2 separate regions of the Homo sapiens genome follow, and region 1 is linked to region 2. Evidence: fine-mapped expression QTL. A gene starts in region 2. The other region holds a variant in brackets. All regions are shown on one strand. Distances are between the middles of the regions. Region 1 has its middle 17 kb from the start of LINC02346. Region 2 holds the start of ATP10A (ATPase phospholipid transporting 10A (putative)).

Region 1 (12,381 bases), 20 kb after region 2:
AGATGATGGGTTGACAGGTGCAGCAAACCACCATGGCACATGTATACCTACATAACAAACCTGCACATTCTGCACATGTATCCCAGAACTTAAAGTAAAAAACAAACAAACAAACAAAACAAAAACAAAAACAAAAAAAACCTTAGGTTATATTTCCAGTAGAATTGAGAGGGTATTTTTTGTTTATTTTCTTTTTTGTATGTTTTTTGAGACAGAGTCTTACTCACCCAGGCTGGAGTGCAATGGCACGATCTCAGCTCACTGCAATCTCCACCTCCTGGGTTCAAGCAATTCTCCTGCCTCAGCTTCCCAAGTAGCTGAGATTACAGGCAGAATTGAGAGTTTTAGTTCAAAAAAGTGAAAGTTTAAATTTAGCATTTTTATTATTAGAATGATGGCTCTGGCAAGTGCAATAATTTATAAACTCCAAGCAAATGAGAGTGCTGCAGAAGACAAAAATATAAAAATATAGGTACAGATTGGAGTAAAGCATGCATTTTTAAACTGTTTCTTTTATTAACGTCACACATCTATTTCTCAGCTGTGTCTGCCAAATGCATTTAGATCCTAGCATCCAGGGACTCTGCTGGCGTGGTGGAAGGTAGCGTAGCAGCATTGTCAGCAGAAGACCTTTCCATGGCTCCGCTTTCCTCAAAATGAATTTTTTGAAAACCAAGCTACTTAAAAATCTGTTTCCTTACTTTACATTTGTTGAAGTTTCTTTGTTTGTTTTAAAGGTTGGACAACATGTTGTAAAATATAACCTGTATATGATGATGTTTATAAATCATTAAAGTACAAATTTAAAAAGAAAATGAAACTCTTGGCAATTTACTTTCATTTCTTGCCATATGATGGAGTCACTGATACCAGACTAACCTTTCCACCATCAACAACTATAAATATGGGCAAAATAGGTGAGGAGTTTTGTTGTTTTGAGACAGGATTTCACTCCGTAGCTCGGGCTGGAGTTCAGTGGTTACGATCATAGCTCACTGCAGCCTTGACCTCTGGGGCTCAAGCAATCCTCCCACCTCAGCTTCCAGAGTAGCTGGGACTACAGGTATGTGCTGCATACCCACCTAATTTAGTTATTTACTTTATAGAGAGGAGTCCTCACTATGCTGCTCAGGCTGGTCTCCTGGCCTCAAGCAATCCTCCTGTCTCAGCCTCCCAAAGTGTTGGGATTACAGGCATGAGCCACGGTGTCCAGCCAAGGTAATTGTTTCTGAGCACCAGGCAATAGCAAGATTGAACTGTGATCCCTGAAAGAGGAAGAGAGTGTAGGGTGGGCACCAAAATTGCCTCTGTTTGCCACCTGAGGGCATTTTCCAAACTGCAGCTGGAGATGGGAGGAAGTGGAATCCACCCAGAGCATGACTGATGGTCTCACCATGTAATAGAGGCCTTGCTTGAAGCTCAGGGTGGCTTAGGCAGCTGCAATTTGAAGGACAGGGTATCAGAAAGAATGGGGAACTGTGCAGAGAAGGAGTTTAAAAGTCTGCACAGTGTCTGCTTAAGTCTTTGGCTAGATACTAAGCTATGCTTCTGCGTTGGTCAATTGCAAGGCCTGGCAGTGAGCAGCTGCTAGATTGAATGGAAATTCCAGAGACTGTGTAGTGCTTGGAGTGCTGGGAGACACAGGAGTTCTGCCTCACCAGAAACAGAATGGTGAACACTCTGAGTATTCAAGTGAGACCACAGCAAGGCCATGTCTGAGGGACAGGACTACATCAGTCAGAGTAAGGGCTATTCAGCCAGGGGCGATGGCTCACGCCTGTAATCCCAGCACTTTGGGAGGCCAAAGTGGATGGATCACCTGAGGTCAGGAGTTTGAGACCAGCCTGGCCAACACGACGAAACCCTGTCTCTACTGAAAATACAAAAATTAGCCAGGCATAGTGGCACGTGCCTGTAATCCCAGCTACTTGGAAGGCTGAGGCAGGAGAATCACTTGAACCTGGGAGGCAGAGGTTGCAGTGAGTCAAGATTACGCCACTGCAATCCAACCTGGGCGACAGAGTGAGACTCTGCCTCAAAAAAAAAAAAAAAAAAAAAGAGTAAGGGCTACTTTAGACCCACAATGTCAATATCAAAGTCCAGAAGCAAGCCTTAGCTGGATCAAGCTGAACCACCAGTACCTTAACTGGCTGCCAGAATAAAACGCACAGATCTAAAAGAAGACCAAGAAGAAAAAGACTCTCAGCAACCTAGCATACACAATGGTCATAATAAATTTTAATATAAGGGACATCAGTGGAAAAAATAGAAACTGTAAAAAGAACTAAATGGATATTCTAGAACAGTACAATGTATGAAATGAAGATTTCACTGGATGGCCCTAGCAGTAGATTGAAGATGATCAAAGCATACTCTGCTTACATTCATATAGATAAATGCAAATTATCCAATCTTAATATTAGGGAGAAAAAGTATGCAGAGATTCATTGAGCTGTAGGACAATATTCAATAGTCTACAATATGGAAAGATGGAGTCTTAGGAGGAGAACAGAAAGAGAATGAGTCAGAAAAATGTTTTGAGAAAATAATGGCCAATTATTTCCCAAATTTGTTTAAAATATAAGCTTCCATAAGCCTCCAAGAAGCTCAGAAAACTGCAGGCAGGATAAATAAAACAAAAATACAACTAGGCCCAATAGAGTCAAACAGCTGAAAATCAAAGATGAGGAGAAAATCTTTAAAATAGCCAGATAAAACCAGACATGTTACATAGAGAGAAATTATATATAAATTCAGCTACTTCTCATCAAAACCCATCAACCTATAATTCTATATCGAGGAAGAAATATCTGTCAAAAATAAGGACAGTGTGAAATAAGGACAGTTTAAGATAAACAAAAGCTGAGAGAATTCACTACCAGCTGACCTGAGTTAGAGGAGAAGCTAAAAGTTCTTCAGGTGAAAAGAAGTGGAGAAGACTGGATATTGTAAATATAAACCAAAAAAGATACTGTATTATATTTAATTTCTGAATGTCTTTGAAAAGCAAGCAATTGTTTAAACAAAAAATTATACCAATCTATTGTGAGGTTTCTAACTTATGCAAATTTAAAATATATGACACTGATAGCAAAAAAGTGGAGGTTAAATGAAATCGCACTCTCACTGCAACACTACAACATATAGTTATTAAAACAACAACAAGTCAACATAGTGGACTTCTAATACATTCAACAAATTAGATGTTATAGGATATTTCTTTGAAAAACAGTTTACCAAAACCAGTGCAAGATGAAGGTAAAATTTGAATAGCTCTATATCAGTTAAAGATATTAAATTCAAAATCTAAGTCCTAGGCCAGGTGCAGTAAGTAGCTCATGCCTGTAATCCCAGCACTCTGGGAGGCCTAGGCTGGAGGATCACTTGAGCCCAGGATTTCAAGATTAGCCTGGGAAACATAGTGAGATCTCATCTCTCTTAAAAATAAATTTAAAAAATTAGCCAGGCATGGTGGTGAACACTTTTAGTCCCAGCTTCCTGGGAGACTGAGGCAGGAGGACTGCTTGAGCCTGGGAGGTCGAGGTTGCAGTGAATCATGATTGTGTCACTGCACTCCAGCCTGGGCAACAGACCAAATGTCCATCTCAAATTTAAAATGAATAAAAATAGAAATAAAAACAAAATCAAAGTCCTTCCCATAAAGGAAACTCCAGGCCCAGGTGGTACAATTACACACAGATTAGAATGGCTCAAGTGAAAAGGAATAATACCACCAAATATTGGCAAAGAATGTGAAGCAGCTGGAACTCTCAGGCATTGCAGGTGGAAGTGTAAAGCAGGTACTGAGGCGGGAGGTGGGACTTGACTCCAGAGGTGGGGCTCAGACTCCAGACCAGATTGAAGACTAGCTGAAACAGGGAAGAGGCAAAAGCACCTCTCCATAAGACATGCCCACCAGTGCCATGTCAGTTTACCATTGCCATGGCAACACCAGAAGTTACCACCCCTTTCCATGACAATGACCTGACAACCCAGAAGTTACCATCTTTTTTCTAGAAATTTCTGTATAATCCACCCCTTGATTTGCCTGTGATTAAAAGTGGGTATGAAATGACTGCGGAACCCCCCTGAGCTGCTACTCTGGGCACACTGCCTGTGGTTAGCCCCGCTTCACAAGGAGCAGTACCCCCTGCTACTGCTGTGCACTGTGCTGCCATCAAAGTTGCTGTTTAACACCACCGGTTCACCCTTGAATTCTTTCCTGGGTGAAGCCAAGAGCCCTCCCAGGCTAAGCCCCAATTTGGGGGCTCGCCTGTCCAGCATCAGCACAACCACTATGGAACTATGTGTGGTAGTTTCTGTTTTAATGAAATATGTTTATCTGTGATCAGCAATTCTAGTCCTAGTCATGTACTCTAGATAAATGAAAATATATGTACATAAAATGGTTGTTCATTGCAGCTTTATTCAAAATAGCCAAAAACTAGAAACCACTGCAATGTCTATCGACAAGTGAATGGATAAACAAAATGTGTTATTTCCATATGATGGACTGTTATTCAATAATATCAAGGATACATTCAAGAACATAGATGAATCACAGTACATTATGCTGAGTGAAAGAAGCCAGAGATGAAAGACTCCCTAATGTTTGATTCTATGTAGATGAAGTCCATGGATAGGCAAAACTAATGTAGCTTGGAAAACAGTCTAAACAATGGTTGCCTCTGGCATTGAGGGGTGGAAAATGATTGGAAAGGGTCTTAAGGGAACTTTGTGAGGTTTTGTAATATTCTATTAACTGAACAGAATGCCAGTTGCCTGGGTTTTTGCATTTCTTTTTACTTTTGTTGTTACCTTTAAGAAGGAAAGGTGTCAGTGGCTGGGGAAAGCATAAGGGATCTTCTGGAGTGTTGGCAATGCTCTACTTCTTGGCATGACTGTATTTACTTTGTGGTAATCCTTTAACTGTACATTATGATGTGTGCACTTCCCGGAATGTGCAGTATGCTTTTATAATAAGTCAAAAATTAGAAGCCCTTTGGATGACTTACTGTCGATATATGCTATCCTCCCACAGTCTAGTTACGCGTGGCATCTGCATAGTCAGGCTCAGACATTCTTTAGCCACCCCTGAAGCTTGACTTCCATGCTTGAGCAAATACTTCCTAATCCTGAGAGCTGTCAGGGTTCACTTGAATTCTCTGGTGCGGTAGGAATCATTGTGCCTTTCCCAGAAGGAAACTGATCTAATTGGCTTAATGAAGCCAAGAACCTCTTATTCAACTCTCTTTTCCTTATAACAACATGGTATTATTTCTTTTAATTATGGACTATCACATGGAAATTGCTGACTTATTCTAGCTCCATTAAGTGGACACACTAAGATGAACCAAAATACTTACAAAAAGCACGCAAACACCCGCTGCCTGCCTCTGCTCCCTGCACTCAGTCTCTGTGGTCCCTTGCACCTCACCTTCCCAGTTTGGCTCTGCTTCTTGGTTCAGCTTTAACAGCCTGCTTAGTGCATGCCTCTGTAGCTCCTAGGTCCTGATCTGAGAGAGGGTGCATCTGGCCAAGTGCTTTCAGAGGGAGCATGAGGAGCCTGCCCTGACCTCTCTTGGCCCCTTATTGGGAGA[C/T]GCCCTTTGGCTGTGATGCATAACCTTACTTTAATGTGGTTGCTGTACACAGCATATTGGATTCCGCCTCATAATAATCTGCAGATCTGTGAGTCTGAGCAATCGATGCCTGTCTAACTGCCACTGTCACTGCATTAGGCTGTCAACTTTCTCAAAGACCTTTCCTAATGCACTGACATCCAAGTCAGTCCCTTTTTATTTCATTTTGTTATTATTTTTTAGAGACAGGGTCTCTCTCTCACCCCAGCTGGAGTGCAGTGGCATGACCATAGCTCACTGAAGCCTCAAACTCCTGGGCTCAAGCAATACTTCTGCCTCGCCTCCTGAGTAGCTGGGACTACAAGCACATACCGCCATGCTGAACTAATTTTTAAGTTTTTTTTTTTTTGTAGAGACAGGGTCTTATTATGTTGTCCAGGCTGGTCTCAAACTCCTGGTCTCAAGCAATTCTCCTGTCTCAGCCTCCCAAAGCGCTGAGATTAGTGGTATGTACCTTTTTGACACTACTCCAGTTGTGTTTGGCAGCTTCCTTCTTCCTGACTTACTTATCTTCAGAGCCCTCATCACCACCTGGTGTTACAGTCTATGTGTTGATATCATTTTCTACATCGCCCCCAGCCTATTTGAATATAAAGTCCATGAGAGGGAAAGGATAGAAATTGTGTTTACTTTGTCCTCTCCTGTAGCTCCAGTACCTGCAACAATGACTGGCGCATAGTAGATTGTCCATAAATATTTGAAAAATGAAAAAATGAGACAATTGGGAAAAGAGAATGAGAAGCTGATAAACATTTGTTGTGCACACACCATAATAATAATAACAATAATAATAATAGTAATAATACAGATGCTCCTCGGCTTATGACGGGATTACGTCACAATGAACCAGTGGTCAATGGAAAATATCTTAAGTAGAAAGTGCATGTGATATACCTGACTTGCTGAATATCCTAGCTCAGCCTAACCCACCTCACCCATGCTCAGAGTGCCTGCAGTTGCCTGCAGTTGGGCAAAGTCATCTCACACAAAGCTTATTTTATAATAAAGTGTTGAATATCTCAGATAGTTTATTGAATACGGTTGAAAGTGAAAAACAGAACAGTTGTGTGGGTTCTCCAGCTACTATTTCTTTTCTTTTTTTTTCTTTTCTTTCTTTCTTTCTTTTTTTTTTTTTTGAGAAAGGTTCTTGCTCTGTGGCAGCCTTGACCTCCCAGACTCAAGCCGTCTTCCTACCTCAGCCTCCCCAGCAGCTGAGACCACAGGTGCCCGCCGCCACCATGCTTGGCTAATTTTTGTATTTTTGGTAGAAACGAGGTTTAACCACGTTGCCCAGGCTGGTCTCGAGCTCCTGGCCTGAAGGGATCCATCCATCTCAGCCTCCCAAACTTGTGGGATTACAGATGTGAGCCACTATGCCTGGCCTCAAAGTACTGTTTCTATTGAGTGTGTATTGCTTTCACACCACAGTAAGTTTGAAAAGTCTAAGTCAAACCGTCGTAAGGCAGGAACCGTCAGTCTAAAAAAGGCATAGATTTTGAGAAAAAGGGAGGCAGAGGAGTTGGGAAGAGAGGTTATAGGACTGATGAAAGATAGTGAAACCAATGCGGATGTAACAAAACACTGAATCAAAGGCAACAAAGACAGGGGTAGGCAGAAGCCAGGAAGGGACTGGGCCAAGTAAGAGGGAAAGGAAAAGGGGGTTCCCTCTGTCCCTTCTCCCTCAATCAGGCTTGTGGGTGCAGGACAGGACGCTAGGCCGCCTGCCATATAGAATTATCTGTGTTGGTCTTCTCCTTTCCTCCTTCCCTGGACTCTGACGTCTTTGTCAAGTCTGGGATGAAGTGGGTGAGAGAAATGCCTTTTCATCATGAGCTTCCCTGAGGTCTCTCTTTCTCCACATGAAGTTTCAAAAGTCTATTTTGGGATGCAAAGGCTGAGAGCTCCAACACTGGGTCTCCTCTCCTCTCCCGGCCAACATTCGAGAGCTGGTAAGACAAGACCTCAAGTTGCTGCCAAAATGGAAGGAGGCCATGGGGAAAGACGGAATGATAAGCATGTCGGTTCAGATCAACATGTTATCTCACCACATGGGTGTTTGTTAGGAAATGAATGTGTTTGTTCTTTTGCATCAATCAGGAGCAGCAGGGAACATGGAGGGGTGGAGGGATGGTGAATGGGTTTGTTTTAAAGAAAAAGACCAGTGAGAGGGGAAGTTCAAGGCCTCTAGTCAAGTCACCCGTGCTTTCTCCCAGGCCCTCATCTCTGTTCCCTTCCCACGCAGACTTGCCCAACCTCCCCATTCTGTGCCAGCAGATCTGGGTGCTTACGCCTGGCTTGGGGAAGTGTGTGTCTTGGAGGGGAAAGGGTGTGGGGACTTCACTTGTATGCACAGTGCACCAGATTCCACAGAGCCTCTGGAGCCCAGGGTTTTTATCATTATGTTTGTTGACTTATTATGTAAAAATTGTACTTTGTTGCTTTTTTATTTGCTTGTTTTAATTGTTACTTGCAGCCATTTTTCCAAACGGCTGTTGTTCTTGAATGTTAGCTGTGCTCACACTTTCCTCATTATTGGTTCCTTAGTGAGCTTTCCTTTCCTTTATTCCTTCCTTCCTTCCCTCCCTCCCCTCCCCTCCCCTCCCTTGCCTTCCCTTCCTTCCTTCCTTCCATCCCTCCTTTTTCAGACAAGGTCTTTCTCTGTTGCCCAGGCTGGAGTGCAGTAAGTCGTGTGATCTTGGCTCACTACCGCCTCAACCTCCTGGGCTCAAGAGATCTTCCTACCTCAGCCTCCTGAATGGCTGAGACCACAGACACTCACCACCATACCTGGCTTTTTTCTTTTTTTTTCTAGAGACAGGGTCTTGCTCTCTTGTCCAGGCTGGTCTCAAACTCCTGATCTCAAGCAATTCTCCTGCCTCAGCCTCCCAAAGTTCTGGGATTACAGACGTGAGCCACTGCATCTAGCCTGTCCTCTATATTTTTGTTTTTTAAATATTTATCCTTTCTTTCTTTTTTTTGGCCTCAATGTATAACTGTTATTTTCTAGATTTGATCTGAGATGGAATCATGGATCTTCTTTGTATTTTGGAATGAAAAGAGGTGTGAGCCAGGGTAAGATTCTGCAGGAAGACCTTTACTGGGCTGAGGCAAGGATGTGAGACGCAGTCCAGTTGCTACTCTGAAACCTGTCCTTGAGGTTGCTGAGGAGTCTGATGCCATGACTCCATGGGGGGTGGTGTTTACACCTTGGGAGTCCATATGGCTAAACTACAAAAGAAACATGTGACCCTGGTCTTTGCTTATCGTATAACAGCAGAAGCACAATATAGAAAATCTTTCTTTGCAGGCTGTTTGGATCTTACCCTTTGTGGTAGCTCTGTTGCATTCTCTAGCAAAGTGTTTTCAAAACCTTCTTGACCAGTGACATACTGATAAGTATTTCGATCATATAAGTGGTTTTCTATTGCAAACAATATGACTCAAAACATACATTACACGTATACCTTTGGCACTGACTGAATTGATATAGGCTAGATTCCTAGAACTGGTATCTCAGTCAAGGAAACATGCATTTGAATTTGAATAGGTGCAGTCCTTCCAAAGAGCCCTTCCAAAATGCTGTGCCACTGCATGGAGTTTGTATCTGCCACTGCATGGAGTGAGCTATTTCCCTACGTCCAAACCTATAAGATACTATCCATCTGTCTCTTTTGCTTATCTGATGGGGAAAATTGGTACTTCATGGTTCCTAAACAATTTTGAATACTAGGGGATTTTGACTTTGAAGCTTCTTTCCTTTCCAGGTTTTCATAATGGAAAGTAGACTAAAGGGAAGATATTGAGGGTGGGATGTACATCAGAGAGGCCAAAGGAAGAAAATCATTATCCAGGTAGGAGGAAAAGAGGGCAGGATTTAGGGTATAAGGGAAGATGTAAGAAACTTGTAGGGAGCCACCTCCTTGCCAGTGCCTTCTCTCCATGCCCATCCTGACTTTTTGCAAGTTTTTTTTGTTGTTGTTTGTTTGTTTGTTTTTAGAGATAGGGTCTCTCTCTGACACCCAGGCTGGTGTGCAGAGGCCTGATCCTAGCTCACCACAGTCTTGAACTCCTGGGCTCAAGCAAACTCCCGCCTCAGTCTTCTGAGTAGCTGGGACTACACGCGCATGGATGCCACCATGGCTTGCTAATTTAAAACAATTTTTTTTTTTTAGAGACAGGTCGCACTGTGTGGCTTAGGCTGGTCTCAAACTCCTGGTCTCATGTGACCCCCAGCCTCAGTCTCCAGAGTAGCTGGGTCTATAGGTGCAAGCCATCACGCTCGGCTGACCTTTTGCAAATGTGAGTACAGATGCCCTCCTGAGACTTGGCGGCAGAGTCGCATGCAGGGGAAGGAAGATCTAAGGCTTGATCTCTTCTGAGGCGGCCAGCCTTTGAGAGATTCACGTCAACCGCTAAGGTCACCTGCTGCCCCCACATTCCTGTGGAACTAAGTGTAAAGAGCTTTTGATCTTGGGTGGAAATAAGGCAGAATTTATTATGTCACTAGAATCTTGTTTTTTTTTTTGAGTCGGAGTCTCGCTCTGTTGCCCAGGCTGAAGTGCAGTGGCGGGATCTCGGCTCACTGCAAGCTCCGCCTCCCGGGTTCACGCCATTCTCCTGCCTCAGCCTCTGGAGTAGCTGGGACTACAGGCGCCTGCCACCACGCCCAGCTTATTTTTTGTATTTTTAGTAGAGACAGGGTTTCACCATGTTAGCCGGGATGGTCTCTATCTCCTGACCCCGTGATCTACCTGCCTTGGCCTCCCAAAGTGCTGAGATTACAGGCGTGAGCCACCGCACCCGACCGCTAGAATCTTTTTAAGGTCTCCAAGGCAGAGGAATGTGTGCGGATTCATAAGCTGCCAAGATTTAAGAAAAAAGAAAAGTTAGTTAGGTGGAAAATTCAGATAGGATCCTAAAATTGCTACCTTCAATTTACTGCTTTTGAGTTGGGAAAGGAAATAAAGGATTTGGAAGCATTATGGGGAAGGCATTTAGGCTAGAATGGAAATACTTATTCATATCGTTCCTGCACTGGGTGGACCAAGCTATGAGCCACATCCGTCTTTGCAGGAATAAGAAATCATGAGAGGGTCAAATTATGTGGCTGGCATTTCTGCATAACATACCTCCCACTTAATGGGCACATAACAATTTCTCTAGCACGTTCTATTTATCAATAAAATCTCATTTTAAAAAAATATTTTATCTTTTTACAGCAGTTTTAGGTTCACAGCAAGATGAGCAGAGGGTCCCAACATCTTCTCCGCCCCCACACAAGCATAGCCTCCCCTACCGTCCATATTTCCAGCAGAGTGGCACATTTCTTTATGATTGATGAAGCCACATTGATACATCATTATTACACAGAGACCACAGCTTACATTATGCTTCACTCTTGGTGTTGTGTATTGTGTGGGTTTGGACCAATGTATAATGCCCTGTATCCGCCGTTGCAGTATTGTACAGAGTAGTTTCATTGCCCTAAAAATCCTCTGTGCTCCCCTATCCATCCCTCTCTCTCCTCTAGCCCCCAGGAAATGCCGATCACTTTCCTGTCTCCATGGTTCTGCCTTTTCCAGAATGTCGTTCAGTTGGAACCATGCAGTGGGTAGCCTCTTCAGATTGGCTTCTTTGACTCTGTGACATACGTGTCACTTTCCTCCATGTGTTTCTATGGCTTGATAGCTCATTTCATTTTACTACTGAATAATATTGCATTCTCTGAATGTACCACAGTTTATTTGGCCATCCACTTGCTGAAGGACATGGTGGTTGCTTCCTAGTTTTGGCAGTTATGAATAAAGCTGCTATAAACATCCCTGTGCACATGTTTGTCTGGACACAAAGCTTTTACCCATTTCATATATTCATTTGCATGGTTGCTTTACAGTGCCAGGGGCGAGTGGGTGGGGATTTTGTGGAGGCTGTGTGTTTTGGCTGTGAAAGACATCTAGCAGTCCTAGTAATGCCCTAGCTCCCATGAGCAGTGCTTCCTAAGGGCTCAGAGAGAGAGACTTTGGGACTATGCAGTACTGAAAAGGCAAGAGGTAACGCAAGCTGTAGCAACGCATTTCACTGCAGTTGCATGCCGGCAGCCAGAGACAATGCCAACTGAAGTGGATGCAGCCAGGGGAAGTCTGAAGAGCAGCCAGGCTCATAAATTTGAAGAGTGGAAAAGAATTGCGATGGCAACTAAATATTGCTCTGTAAAGTAGCCAGGCATAAGTCTTATACAGCAGTGACTTTCAAACTTTAGAAACTCTATTAACACTCCTCAAGTAGAAGGCTGCTGTGAGCTCCTGAAGAGGCACAGGCCATCCTCAGATCTCTGTGTTCATGAAAGATGCCCCGACTTTCTATCAGGGCCCATCTCCCTTGGGGTAGGGGGCTGGGTGCAGAATTTAACATTTTTTGATACTTTTTTTAAAAAAGAAATACAAAACTCAAGAGAATAATATAAGAACCCCAACATAACCCCTGCCCAGATTCCTCTTTCCTTTTTACAATTGCATTGCCCACGTCATGTATTCCATCAGTTTCCTGCTGTTTTGACATGTGGGCTGTCTCTGGCTGGCCTTTGGCTGCAGTGAGTAGACACCCTTTTGCCTATATGTTTTCACATTTTTGCAAATGTAGCTTGAAGTTAGATTCCAGGAGGTGTGTTTGCAGGGTCATGAGTAAGCGTATATGCAGTTTTGCTCACCGTTGTGCAGTGCCGCCCCCAATATCTGGGGATGCC
Region 2 (11,906 bases):
GCTTCCCACACCCTCCCATCACAGTGGACCACAGCTTAGTGACGCTGGGTGGGTGGCCCTTCCCCCCTGCAGGCGCCACAGGCAGGACCTAACCCCCCCAGAATCACCCAGTGCTCCCCCAACCTGCTGAGCGTGGCTCAAGAGGGTTTTCCTAAATAGCGTGTGAAATCCATTAGGAGAAAATGGGTTCAGAAGGAGGAAACAGGACTGCTTCTCAAACACCCTGGCCTAGGAAGCTACATTTCTAACAGGCTCTAAGGGGATTCTCACAGAAAGGGGCCCAAGGATGGTGTCACTGAAAAACAGCACATAAATAATAACATAAACGATGACGCACTACAGGCTGCACATCCACATACAAGGGAATGTCCCAGAAGTCACTTCTGGGACAGTGGCAGCAGGTAAGACTTCCAGCTAAAGTCTGCTCATACTCTGCGTGAACAATGTGTTGCACGCTTGGACCGACACTCCTATGCACAGCAGCTAGAGCAGCAACACTTGGAGGAAGCGCCACACAAAACAGACCTAGACAGTTCACAGTCGTGCGTCTGGTCTTCTCTGCAGTCAACCAAACGCACTGCACAGACCTTGGCCTGACACAGAAGTCATTTCCTTGGCTGCTCTGTGCTGTCTGGGTGCCAGGTCCTGAGAGCCAGGGCTTCATGTCGATGCTTCACCCCAGTGTACCCTAGAACCTGTTCTCAACCTCTGTGCCATGACCCTGTCCACCCCCCGCCCCCGATCTCTCACTGCAGCACCCACTCTCTGCCCCACCTTGCTTGGCACCATTTTCCTGATCCTCACACCACCGTCCCAGACTCTTGTCCTGCACTGGGACGCCTCGCCAGACATGGAGCCTGCATCCCGGGGCTGGGAGCCCCACCCAGGACTTCACCTGGTAGACATGCCCTATGGTGCCATCTGTCCCTACAGTAAACTCTGGGTGAAACCAGCCTCCTCCTCCTTCTATTCCCAGGGCCTGGCACCACCTCTTCCAGCCTTTCTGGGACTGGAAGAATTTGACCTGCCTTCCCAGGGAACAATAAACAGAAGTAGGGCATTGCGCCCACTGTCCTCAAGGCAGCTGGGAAGTGAATGAAAAATGCTGACAGTTCCTTCAGTAAGGAAGAAGACAGAGTCTGAGGGAGAGTTAAGATATCTGGAGTCAAGGGCAGAGTGGAAGGGGAGGGGAACGTAGATGGGTGTAGTCCAAATGGAAGCTAAAGTTTCAAAGTCCCATGAAGCCTTACAAGGTCACAGAGACAAGAGAATAGCTTTTAGATCCCAACCTCAGTTTCCTCATCGGCAAGATGGGTGTGATAGTTACTATAAGGATCGAATGACATAATGGATTCAAAGCACTTTGCCAACTGAAAATAAACTGTATTTCTCCTGAGGCATAAGTATTTCTAAAAAGGAGGCTACAGGAGTTACGGGCTCAGTAATAACAGGAAGTGGTATCTGTGCAAAGGCTTAAAACTGTTGAGCCCCACCAGGGCTATGTGGTGGAGGCCTCGCTCAGGGGACACGGAGGCCATTTGTGTAAGGGGTGCCGCTCTTGTCCCTGCTCAGGCTTCTGGTGAACAGGGGCCAGGAAATCCCACAGCCCGGTCTAATGACAGTCACTCTTGCTGACTGGCCAAAGAGCAAGGCTTGGGAGCAGGCAGAGTGGTGTTTCTGAAAGTGTGGGCCATCATATAAGAGTTACGTGCACGCTAATCTAATACATTCCTGGGCTCAATCCCAGGCCTGCTGAGTGAGACACTTTGGAAAACTGTAATTTTAACAAGCGCCTTCAGTGACTCTTACAAAAGTTTCAGAAGCACGAGCAAAGAAATATTCAAAAAGCTGTGCGGGCGGGAAGACCTGGGTCAAATCCCAGTACCACGACCTTGCTGCTGTGTGACACTGGGCAGGTTTACTTAACCTCTCTGAACCCGTTTACTCTGTTTACAAAAATATGGAGCATAACCACTGCAGTGTTGCTGGGAGGGTGAAAGGTACTCAACTACAGAGGCACGCATCCATGGCTTCATCCAAGCTATGAGTGCCTGTGTCTAAGGCATTCGTGAATGCCTACGTTTAAGAGGCAGGAGCCACTCTGACCCTCCTCTTTTAGGGGAACAATCTGCCACTAAGAGAGCATAGGGCTTCCTAGAGTCTCCCCATGCATAATGGAAGCCAGATACCGCTAATGTTCTATTCAGAAGCCCATCTCAGTCCCTGTTCCGGGGTCAAGCAAGGTGAGGCAGGAGGTAACGATGGGCTGAGCTTTGGAGGAAAGCTAAGACGACCCACCTTTCTCAGGGACAGGGCCTTGAGGTGGTCCAGGCTGCTGGACACAGCTCCAAGATGGATCTACCAAGGGGCTCTCCTGGGGTGGAGAGCATAAAGGATGAAAAGGCCGCAGGCCTCTGGACAGGTCCGCCGGAGACTCTAAAACTCAGGGAGGGAAAAAGAGCAGGAGTGGTCCATCGCAGGGTCACCCCTGGTACTGCCCGTGGCAGGGCTCACAAACACCCCACAGCCTCTTTCCCCCAGGAAGCAGGTTAAGATGAAGAAAATTAGGCAGGCAGCTACCGGGCGGTGCCTGGCTCGCGGCTCATGGCTCACAGTGGAGGATGGACACTGCTGTTATTTCCCCTGCCCTGGTACCTGGGCCGTGCCAGACATATCAGCACTTGGCGGCAGTTTCACTTTGCTGCTGTCCTGAGCCGAGCTGTTAGCAGACTGAGCTTTACTGTCCTGTGCCGGCTGTTCAGAGACCACTGTGCCTGGCCGAAGACTGAGGCAGGGACTTCAGGCCAGGGGGCCAGGCTGGCTTTTCCTGCCTTTCACTTCAGGTGGGAGCGGCTGTGGATGAGGATGTCCAGCGGCCGTCGGTTTCTAGCCTTGGGATCATTCTGGCCCCGACACGGAGTGACAGGGGATCCCCACGCGTCCCCGCATCCAGGGCGCCCCTTTAGCTGCGGCGGAGGCACAGAGAGGCCTTGGCGGCGCTGTGGCTTCGGTCGGCACCGGGTCCCGCGCAGCCGGGCCCTCCACCCTGAGTGGAGCTGCCTTCTAAGCACCCAGCCCCTGCCAATCACTGTGCCCAACACCAAGTTCCCGGGGCGCCCTGCCCTGCGCCACCGCGCGCTCGCTCGCCCGCCCGCCCAACTCACCTGCTGAAGACCAGGCAGCCCAGGTGGTTGATCTTGTGGTCGGAGCGGTGGCGGCTGTAGTCCTCCCACAGGTCCCTGAAGGCCGTGATGGCCAGGATGAAGAGCACCGGCGCCAGTGCCAGGCCGGGCTGGAAGGCGTTCACCGCCGGCACGAAGTTGAGCAGCGCGATGAAGACAAAGTACACGTTGGCCGGGCGGTGGAACTGCTCGAACAGGTTCTTGGGCAGGAAGGACAGCAGCGTGTACTTGGTAGTCTTGAGCCGGTTGTCGGCCAGGTGCTGGGCACACCCGCGCCGCCGTCGCCGCTCGCCCTTGGCCGCGCCAGCCGCAGGGTCCTCGGCGCCCGGGGGCGGCAGCAGGTTGGAGCGCACCGTGCGCGTCCTGCCCTCTCGGCGCCTCCGCCGTCCCGGAGGCCCGGGCTCCTCGGTCCCCGCCGGCTCCCGCTCCATGGCCGCGTGTCGCCGCGCCCGGCTCCTCCGCCGCTCACGCCCGCCCGCGCCGGCCTCTTAGGTTATCATCACTCGCGGCCCGGGCGCGGCGGTGCGAGCTCCCCGCCTGCGGGACGCACGGAGACCGCGGTCAGCGCGCCGCCTGGCCGGCCCAGCGCGCCCAGCCCGCGCCCAGCCCCGTCCACTCCCGTCCAGCCCCGCCGCCCGGCCGCAGTCCCCAGGGCGCAAGCTGGGCGGGTGCCGCACAGAGCCCCCTTGTCCTCGCCGCCCGCCCCCGGCCCGGGTCGTTTCCGCCGCGGTGGCCACGGCCCCGCCCTCGTTCCGCGCCCGGACTGGGCCACGCCGGATAGCGGGAAACAAAAAAAGCCCGAGCTGGAAACTTCAGAGAGGTTTAGTTTCGTTTCCCAGAAGCATCAGTTCGGTCCCAAAACGCTGCAAACGCGCGCTGCCTGCAGTAGGAGAGAGGAAACCGCGAAGCGCGAGAAAAGGCGCCCCCGTCCCCAAGCAGCCCGCGCGCCCTTCCAGGGGCCAGACCTGCTCCATCCTGGACGGCGAAACGACCTCGGGAGACCCCGGTTAGGACCTTACTCCAGGGATCAACTGGAATCAAAATCCAAAGGATCCATGGCATCCAGTGCTCCAATTTTTAAGTCTTTTTTACGCAGGACCTCTGCTCCTGGGGAGCCCTGGGAAGGGCGATTCCGCGTTGCCTCTAAGAACTTCTTTCCTACCCCACTTCCCAGCCCCCACCACTTTCAGATTCCGTTGTTGGGCGAACTAGACCGTTTCCTTTCCACCATCATCATTACTGCCTTTCCTTCCTCTCCTAAATAAATTCTTTTTCTTTTTTCTGTTCTTTCTTCATGGAAAGGAGAAATATATCGCTATAGCAAAGACAGAATTTGGTTTGCAGGTATTTGAGTGTCTGTTTCCCTCCCTGGGAAATCATGAGGACCGAAACGCTCCTTGTGCGCTGTAGCTCTGAGGTGGCTGTCATGGCCCGGACGGCGGGGGAGGCGAGGATGGTTGTGGGGAGGCGAGGATGGTTGTGGGGAGGAGAGGGGAGCGTCAGGAGGGTGTCCCAGAAGTGTGGGGCGAAGGGCTCCCCTCCACATCATGGGGCATCCGAGAAGGGGTGGGAGAATAAGCACGGCATGGAAAAAGGAGCTGGGAGTCCCCCACGTCCGCAGTGAGACCCCACAGATGTTTCATGGCTGTGACTGTTTGCCTCCCACTCAAGAAGTACAGAGATGAGAAGCAGTTATTTCTTGCCCAGGAGGCCGTGGCTGGGCGGTTGGCCGTGGCCCCAGGCTCTTCCTGGGGGTGCCTGCTAACAAGGCACTGCCCTGGATGGACTCAAATCACGTCTTCGCCAGGACCCTGGCTTGGGGAGGCCCTCCCCTCCAGCACCCTGGCTTACCCGGCTCCAGTTATGACATTCTTACATCTCTGCCCAGTTTTGCCACCATCCACAATGTTGCCCAGAACCCAGTGTTAGAAGGTAGAGTGGTGACAGGTGTGAAGAAAATAATCCCATCCCCCAGTCACAGGGGTGGGCTTTTGACATGTAGAGGCCCAGATCAGGGAAAGGTTTGGCTGAAGTCTGCATTGTTGGGGAAAGGAGTCAGGTCTCACAGTCAACCAGCAGAAACCCAAACGGAGCATCAACTGCAAATGAAGGCCCACAGCGCCTGCAGTCTTGAGGCCTCACATCCCATGGCTCCGTGTTTTCCTCTACCAGCCCACCTGGTGACCCCCGAGGCCTTCGGCCTCCCTACACTTCGGCCTCCTGTCTTCACAGGCATCCCCGTGGACCCTTCGCCCAAAGTCTCCAGGGGTGTCCGCGCCTACCAGACTCCCAGCTTCAGCCAGTCCACACTGTTGCCAAAGTAATTACCGCCTCATTCCATTTGCTTACCCTGGAGCTTCCAGGAGTACTCCTGGTGCTTACAAAGCCAAATGCTGATTCCTCAGGCAGAGGTCCCTTGAGGCCCTGAGGGGAACCAGCTTGCTGATTTTCTTCAGCCCCTCCCTGGTTCAGGCCCAGCCCCAAGGTGAGAGGTCTCCTTATCCTTCTCAGAACAGTCCTTACTCATCCCATCCACATTCCGCTCTAAGGTTCCAAGATTCTGTGAGTCACAATGCTCCTCAAGTCTGGAATCTTTTTCCACCTGCTCTTCCCCAGTGCAAAGTCAGGATTTCCAGGAAGGCCTAGCTCAGCTCACCTCTGGAAAGGTCTCCAAGCTGTGTGATCTGGGGAATCGTGGAGGGGTTTTGAGCTCAGGTGTCTTCTGCCAGCTGGACTCTGAGACCCTGGCCTGCTGGGGCGAGGATGAGGCTCTGATGTGGTCTGGTCAACTCTGGGTTGGCCATCTGCACCACAGGGCTCTAACAAGGGCCTGCTATAGGCCATGAGAACCACTGTAAGTGTCCTTGTTCGGCAAATACTTACTCATCCCCTGCTGTATGCCCGGCAATGTTCCAGGCACAGGAATTCATCGGAGAGCTAGAGAGGACAAGATGTTGTCATGGAGCTGCAGCAACTGAACGAAAAACCATGAGAGCCCACGGAGGGCTTTGGAAGGGATGAGGGATGGCCTTTTCGAAGAGAGGCACTGGAGTTGAAACCTGAATGGGACAAGATCAGGTGGAAGAGGCTTCCAGACAGAGGGGGCAGCTCTGTCAAAAGGTCCCAAAGAAGGAGAAATCTCAATGTGTTTAAGAAACAGGTGGGGCTTCTGCCTCACACTCATTCTAAAACCTTCAACCCCACAGCTTCTGCTTTAGGCAATGGGGACACCTGGGAAACACAGTAAGTTTCTGCTCCCCGGAACACTAAGTCCTCACGTGGGAATCCCAACAAAGATGGCTCAGAAAATGAAGGGACACCTGAAACCAGGGCTGGGAGGGGTGGGATCCTGCTCTTGCTCCTGTCAATTGGGCGGTCCAAGGAGGCTTCTCAAGCAACACTGAGCGGAGGCCTAGGGACACAAGCTGTGCAGGCACCTAGGGAAGAAATGGTAAGCACGGGGCGGGATAGGGAGCGTTCAGGGATTTCAGGCCCAGCAAGGAAGCCGGGGTAGCTGGAGCTGAGTGGGAGATTGGAGACGTGGCCGAGAGTGAGGTCATGTGGGGCCTTGTGGATCCCGGTGAGGATTTTGGCTTTTGAGCGAGAGGGAAAGCTTGGGAGGATTTTGAGAAGTGGCATCAAGTGGCTTTACCGAGGTTTCCAGAGATCACTCCTGCTGCAATGTAAATAGAATGTAGAGGGCCAGGGCAGAAGAAGGGAGACGTCGTGGCGAGCGGCCACTGCAGTGATCCTGCAAAGGTGCTGTGGCTCAGGCTGGGTGGCCATGGTGGATGTGGGACATAGCCTCCTCAGAGCATGCGGGACATGCTGTTGGAATGGTTGTGGGATGTGCAAGAGAGGAGGTGAGGGTGGCCCAACAGCTAAAAACCCAAGTTTCATCTAGTGAGTTGGGAAGACAGAAGATGAGGCAGAACTGGAGGTGCCCACCAGCCCTCAGGAGCAGGAGTCGTGCTGGCAGTGGTGATGTCAGTCTGGGGTCAAGAGCAGGTCTGGATGCAGGAGAGGGTAGCCATGAGGAGCAGCAGAGTGGCCAGCATTTAGGGCTTCACTAGCCTTTGGAAAGGACAAGTCTCTGGATTTGCTCCAACTGCAATAGGGAGCCATGGGCTGCCCCAAGCAGAGAGGCGTGAGATGAGAAGATCTTATATGCTCTTTTAATAGATAGAAAATTGATTCCGAGCAGAGTTGGAGCAGGAGAGGTGTAAATTAAGAGGTGGCTTACACCTGGCATTGGATAGACAGACATGGACAAATTGGAAGTACGTCTTCCAGGCAGAGCTAATGTGACTGGCCAACAGGTTGGATGTTTCAGTGAGAAAAATAAATGAAGTGGTTTAAGGAGAAAATGCAAGCTCAGCATAAGCCATGTTAAGTGTGAGATGGCAAGTGGGCAGTGGCGTATCGAAGACCGGACATGACAGCAAAGGTCCACACTGGTGACACAGCTGTGGGGGATGCTGGGAGACACCTGGGGGTTAGAGCTATGTGATGAGATCGCACCTAGATGCGCGAGATGCACACAGGGCATAAAAAGAGACTCTGGGTGTTACTTTCCAACTAAGAAGTATAGAGAATTGAATGAGACAATCATCAAGATTGTTTCCAGTTTTCAGATACCAAGAATCAGTACCTCTAATGGCTGGTGAAATAAATAATTATGGAATAAGTAAGAATCACAGTCTAAAACATTTTAACCTGACAGCATTGTTTAATATTTACTCTAGTGACTGCCCTTACAAATAGGCATAACAGATTCTGACATTTTTAAAATTTTTATTTTAAATATTTTTAATTTTTGGCTGGGCGTGGTGGTTCATTCCTGTAATCCCAGCACTTTAGGATACGAGGTGGGCAGGATCACTTGAGGTTAGGAGTTCAAGACCAGCCTAGACAACATGGTGAAATCTCGTCTCTACTAAAAATGCAAAAATTAGCTGGGCATGGTGATGCACACCTGTAATTCCAGCCACTTGGGAGGTCAAGGAAGGAGAATTGCTTGAACCTGGGAGGTGGAGGTTGCAGTGAGCCGAGATTGTGCCACTGCACTCCTGGGTGACAGAGCAAGACTTCATCTCAAAAATAAATAAACTATTTTTATTTTTAATTTTTAGAAAGAGACAGGGTCCCCCTATGTTGCCCAGGGTGGCCTCAAACTCCTGGGCTCAAGCAATCCTCCCACCTGGGTCCAGCCAGATTCTGAAATTTGTAATATGAAAAACCAGGCACAGATGCTACCTATTAATTAATATGGCCTCAGCATCATCCAAAAACTTCCAAAATACAGAGCTGTGAAATTTTGGACAAAAGTAATTGACTAATGATTGAGTAAGCTAAATCTATGATTATGTACATAATCCTAAAAATACAAAATTCTGGCCGGGCACAGTGACTCATGCCTGTAATCCCAGCACTTTGGGAGGTCGAGACAGGCGGATTACCTGAGGTCGGGAGTTCGAGACCCACCTGACCAACACAGAGAAACCCAATCTCCACTAAAAATACAAAATTAGCCGGGTGTGGTGGCACATGCCTGTAATCCCAGCTACTCAGGAGGCTAAGGCAAGAGAATCGCTTGAACCAGGGAGGTGGAGGTTGCAGTGAGCCGAGGTTGTACCATTGCACTCCAGCCTGGGCAACAAGAGTGAACTCCGTCAAAAAAAAAAAAATATATTCTAGAGAGAGAAGCAAAAATTTATATTTTTTATTTTTAAGCTTTTCCTTATCCCACATACCATAATTTCTAAGGAATTCATAGTTTGATATGCCTGCCTGAGATAATTTGTTCTCCGTTTTTCCAAACTAAATTTCCTTTACAAAACACATGATATTTTTCAAAAAGATAAATGTACAGTTGTGCTGGGGAGCTGGGAAAAAGTACCTTCAGAAGACGAAAAGATATCTCAGAAGATATTGAGGGATGTCAGGAATACATAAAACTGATGAACACATTAGCGGGAAAGTCTAACACATATGAGAAAACATATTGTCCACGCGCGGTGGCTCATGCCTGTAATCCCAGCACTTTGGGAGGCCGAGGCGGGCGAATCACAAGGTCAGGAGTTCCAGACCAGCGTGGCCAACATGTTGAAACCCCGTCTCTACTAAAAATACAAAAACTTAGCAGGGCGTGGTGGCGCGCGTCTGTAATCCCAGCTACTCGGGAGGCTGAGGCAGGAGAATCTCTTGAGCCTGGGAGGCGGAGGTTGCAGTGAGCTGAGATCCCGCCACTGCACTCCAGCCTGGGAGACAGTGCGAGACTCAGTCTCAAAAAAAAAAGAAAAGAAAAAAGAAAACATATTACAGAGTTAAGTAAGCAAGGACACTTTTTTTAAAAAAGTGAGTTTTTCCAGTAGATCCCTTGAGAAGGCTCAAAATCAGAGAAAGCAGGCCATTCTAGGATGAGGCGCAGGTGGGAAAATAACGAGGCCGCCATGTTGCTACATCCAGGATGCCACTGCAAGTCCCACGCTGGTTATTTCAAGTAGCTGCTCTTAAGACCGGCTGCTCCTTAAGGTTACCTGATGAGCTACTAATGCCCAAGCAATGCCCAAGCCTTGCTCCAGACTCAGTACACATGGGGACCAGGCCCCAGCACCCAGATTTTTTAAAAGCTTCTTGGGTGATTCCAATTGCAGCCAGGTTTAAGAACCTCTGGTCGATATCTGCAATGATAAGCATGAATCTATATTACAGTCAAGAGTCACTGGATTGTTTTAGAACAACTGGTAATATGAAAAAAAAAAAGCAAACTTCACCCAAGTGAGTTTCCCCTCTCTGAGGAAAAAGAGCCAATGCAGAACACAGACAATAACATTAGAAATCACCGTTATTGTCCTTAGATATCCAGAAGACCAGCCCATCTATAAAATTGCCATGGAAAGGAAGTAAATGAGGAACAGCCAAAAATTCTTGGAAGTAGAAAGCACAGCAGGTAACACATTAAAAAAAAACCCACAAAGTGGCAACATTAACAATCTAGATGGTCATATTGGGGAGAGGGTGGATCCAGAAAAATCCCTCTCACTTTTGCCTGCGCCAGTAGCAGACCAAGAAAATTGGGACAGCCCTTCAGGAGACATCTAGGAAAGATGGACAAAATGCTTACAAAAAATGTATTTTAAAGCCACAGGGAACTAACAGGGCAACTAAGATAATGAAACCAAGACCGGGCAGAAGGAAGACACCAGAGAGCTCAGCCCAGCTGGGTTGCAACTCTCCAGGCACTTCCTACACAACCCACCCAGGGCTCCACATCCCCTTCCAGCTCTATTTGAATTTGCACCGATAGGCATCCCACGTGTTAGCTGACTGCCTCTTCTCCTTCGTGGCAAGACGTTCAGCTCCACAAGGCAGGAGTCAGTGTCTGCCTCTTTCACTGCTGCAAGGTAGCCCCTGTGCCTAGAAGAGCACCGCGCAGGGTGGCTTCTTACTAAATATCCGGTAGATGAATGTTCACCTTCATTCTGTGATGGAAAAACATCAACAGAATTTTTTGAGAAGTAGGTTTTGAATATAAGCTTCTCTGTTAGTCAAATTGATATTCAACGATCCTGACAATTAAATGCATTTGCAGACAAGCAAAGACTCAGAGAGACAACACTTGTGCTTGTGTGCTGAAAGAAAAAGTATTTACCTTGATATCATGCTAACGTATTTATATAATAAACAAAATATAAATTAATAAGGAATAAGCACGTATTTCGAATAGATTAACAATCTCCGGAAGATCTTGAACGGGTCCTCAGAATCTCATCTTCCAAAACCACGCAATGGAGAATATTTGACAAAGTTTACAAAATAGTTTATTCCTCAATTTTATTTATAATGCAGTACAAAAAGATATTGAAACCCTCTCAATTTATTCTGCAAGGTTAGCAAAACCTGCTATTAAAACTGGATAGCAGAATTGCAAGGGAAAATAGTTTATTTGTAGTTTTCTTTTTTATTCTATAGTAATATTTATAGGTGTAAAGGCAAAATCTATCACTATTTGCAACTTTGTGAGGTTTTTTTTGAGACAAGATCTAGCTTTGTCACCCAGGCTGGAGTGCAGTGGAGCAATTACAGCTCACTGCAGCCTCGACCTCGTGGGCTCAAGTGGTTCTCCCATCTCAGCCCTCCAAGTAGCTGGGACTACAGGCATGCCACTATGCCCAGGTAATAAACTGTGGTTTTTATCAGGGAAGTAGTTAGTAATGAGGCTAACTATACAATAAAGATGTACAAATCAGTAAGTTACTCCTATGCAAGCAATAGCCAATTAGAAAATGCAGTAAATGAACAAAAATGGTCTCATTTTTAGAATAAAATATTTAAGGAAAAATAACAAAAACCAGTTCAAGATGTTTGCAAATAATTGTAGCAAACAACAGCAGGAGTAATATTTGGCCTGTGTAGCACATGTAACACCAGCCAGGCATGTGCTTCTCATTTTCTAGTCATTTTCTCCGCCCTCCTGGCCATTCACTGAGACAGGAGAATGTTTATCCCAATATTATAGATGAGAAGTATGTTGTCACATGACTAGTCAACTTAAAATTTTACTGAATGTGATAAAGGAAGATCTCAATAGATATAAAATATGCCATGTCCCTGATTGGAACTCTGAAAGTAACCAGTTGATCTTATACATTTTCCGAACTAATATTCCAGCTGGATTTATTTTTTCAACTCAACAAATGAACTATAAAATAGCTGTATTAG

Evidence for each region. PIP is the estimated chance that this variant, and not a neighbour inherited with it, causes the effect.
Region 1: its variant is fine-mapped to the expression of ATP10A in tibial nerve (GTEx, PIP above 0.99). The same link has a PIP of 0.9 or more in fibroblasts.

What each region holds. Positions count from the first base shown.
Region 1 is chr15:25,879,052-25,891,432 of GRCh38, forward strand. No RefSeq gene overlaps it. Among named protein-coding and RNA genes, the nearest start is that of LINC02346, 17 kb to the right of the region's middle. The variant C/T (reference allele first, on the strand shown) is at 5,601.
Region 2 is chr15:25,859,484-25,871,389 of GRCh38, forward strand. ATP10A (ATPase phospholipid transporting 10A (putative)) reads right to left here and starts at 3,844. Exons shown (of 21, transcript NM_024490.4): 1 at 3,165-3,844. The coding sequence starts at 3,613. It overlaps ATP10A-DT (ATP10A divergent transcript), which reads left to right and starts at 5,787. Exons shown (of 2, transcript NR_183988.1): 1 at 5,787-6,425.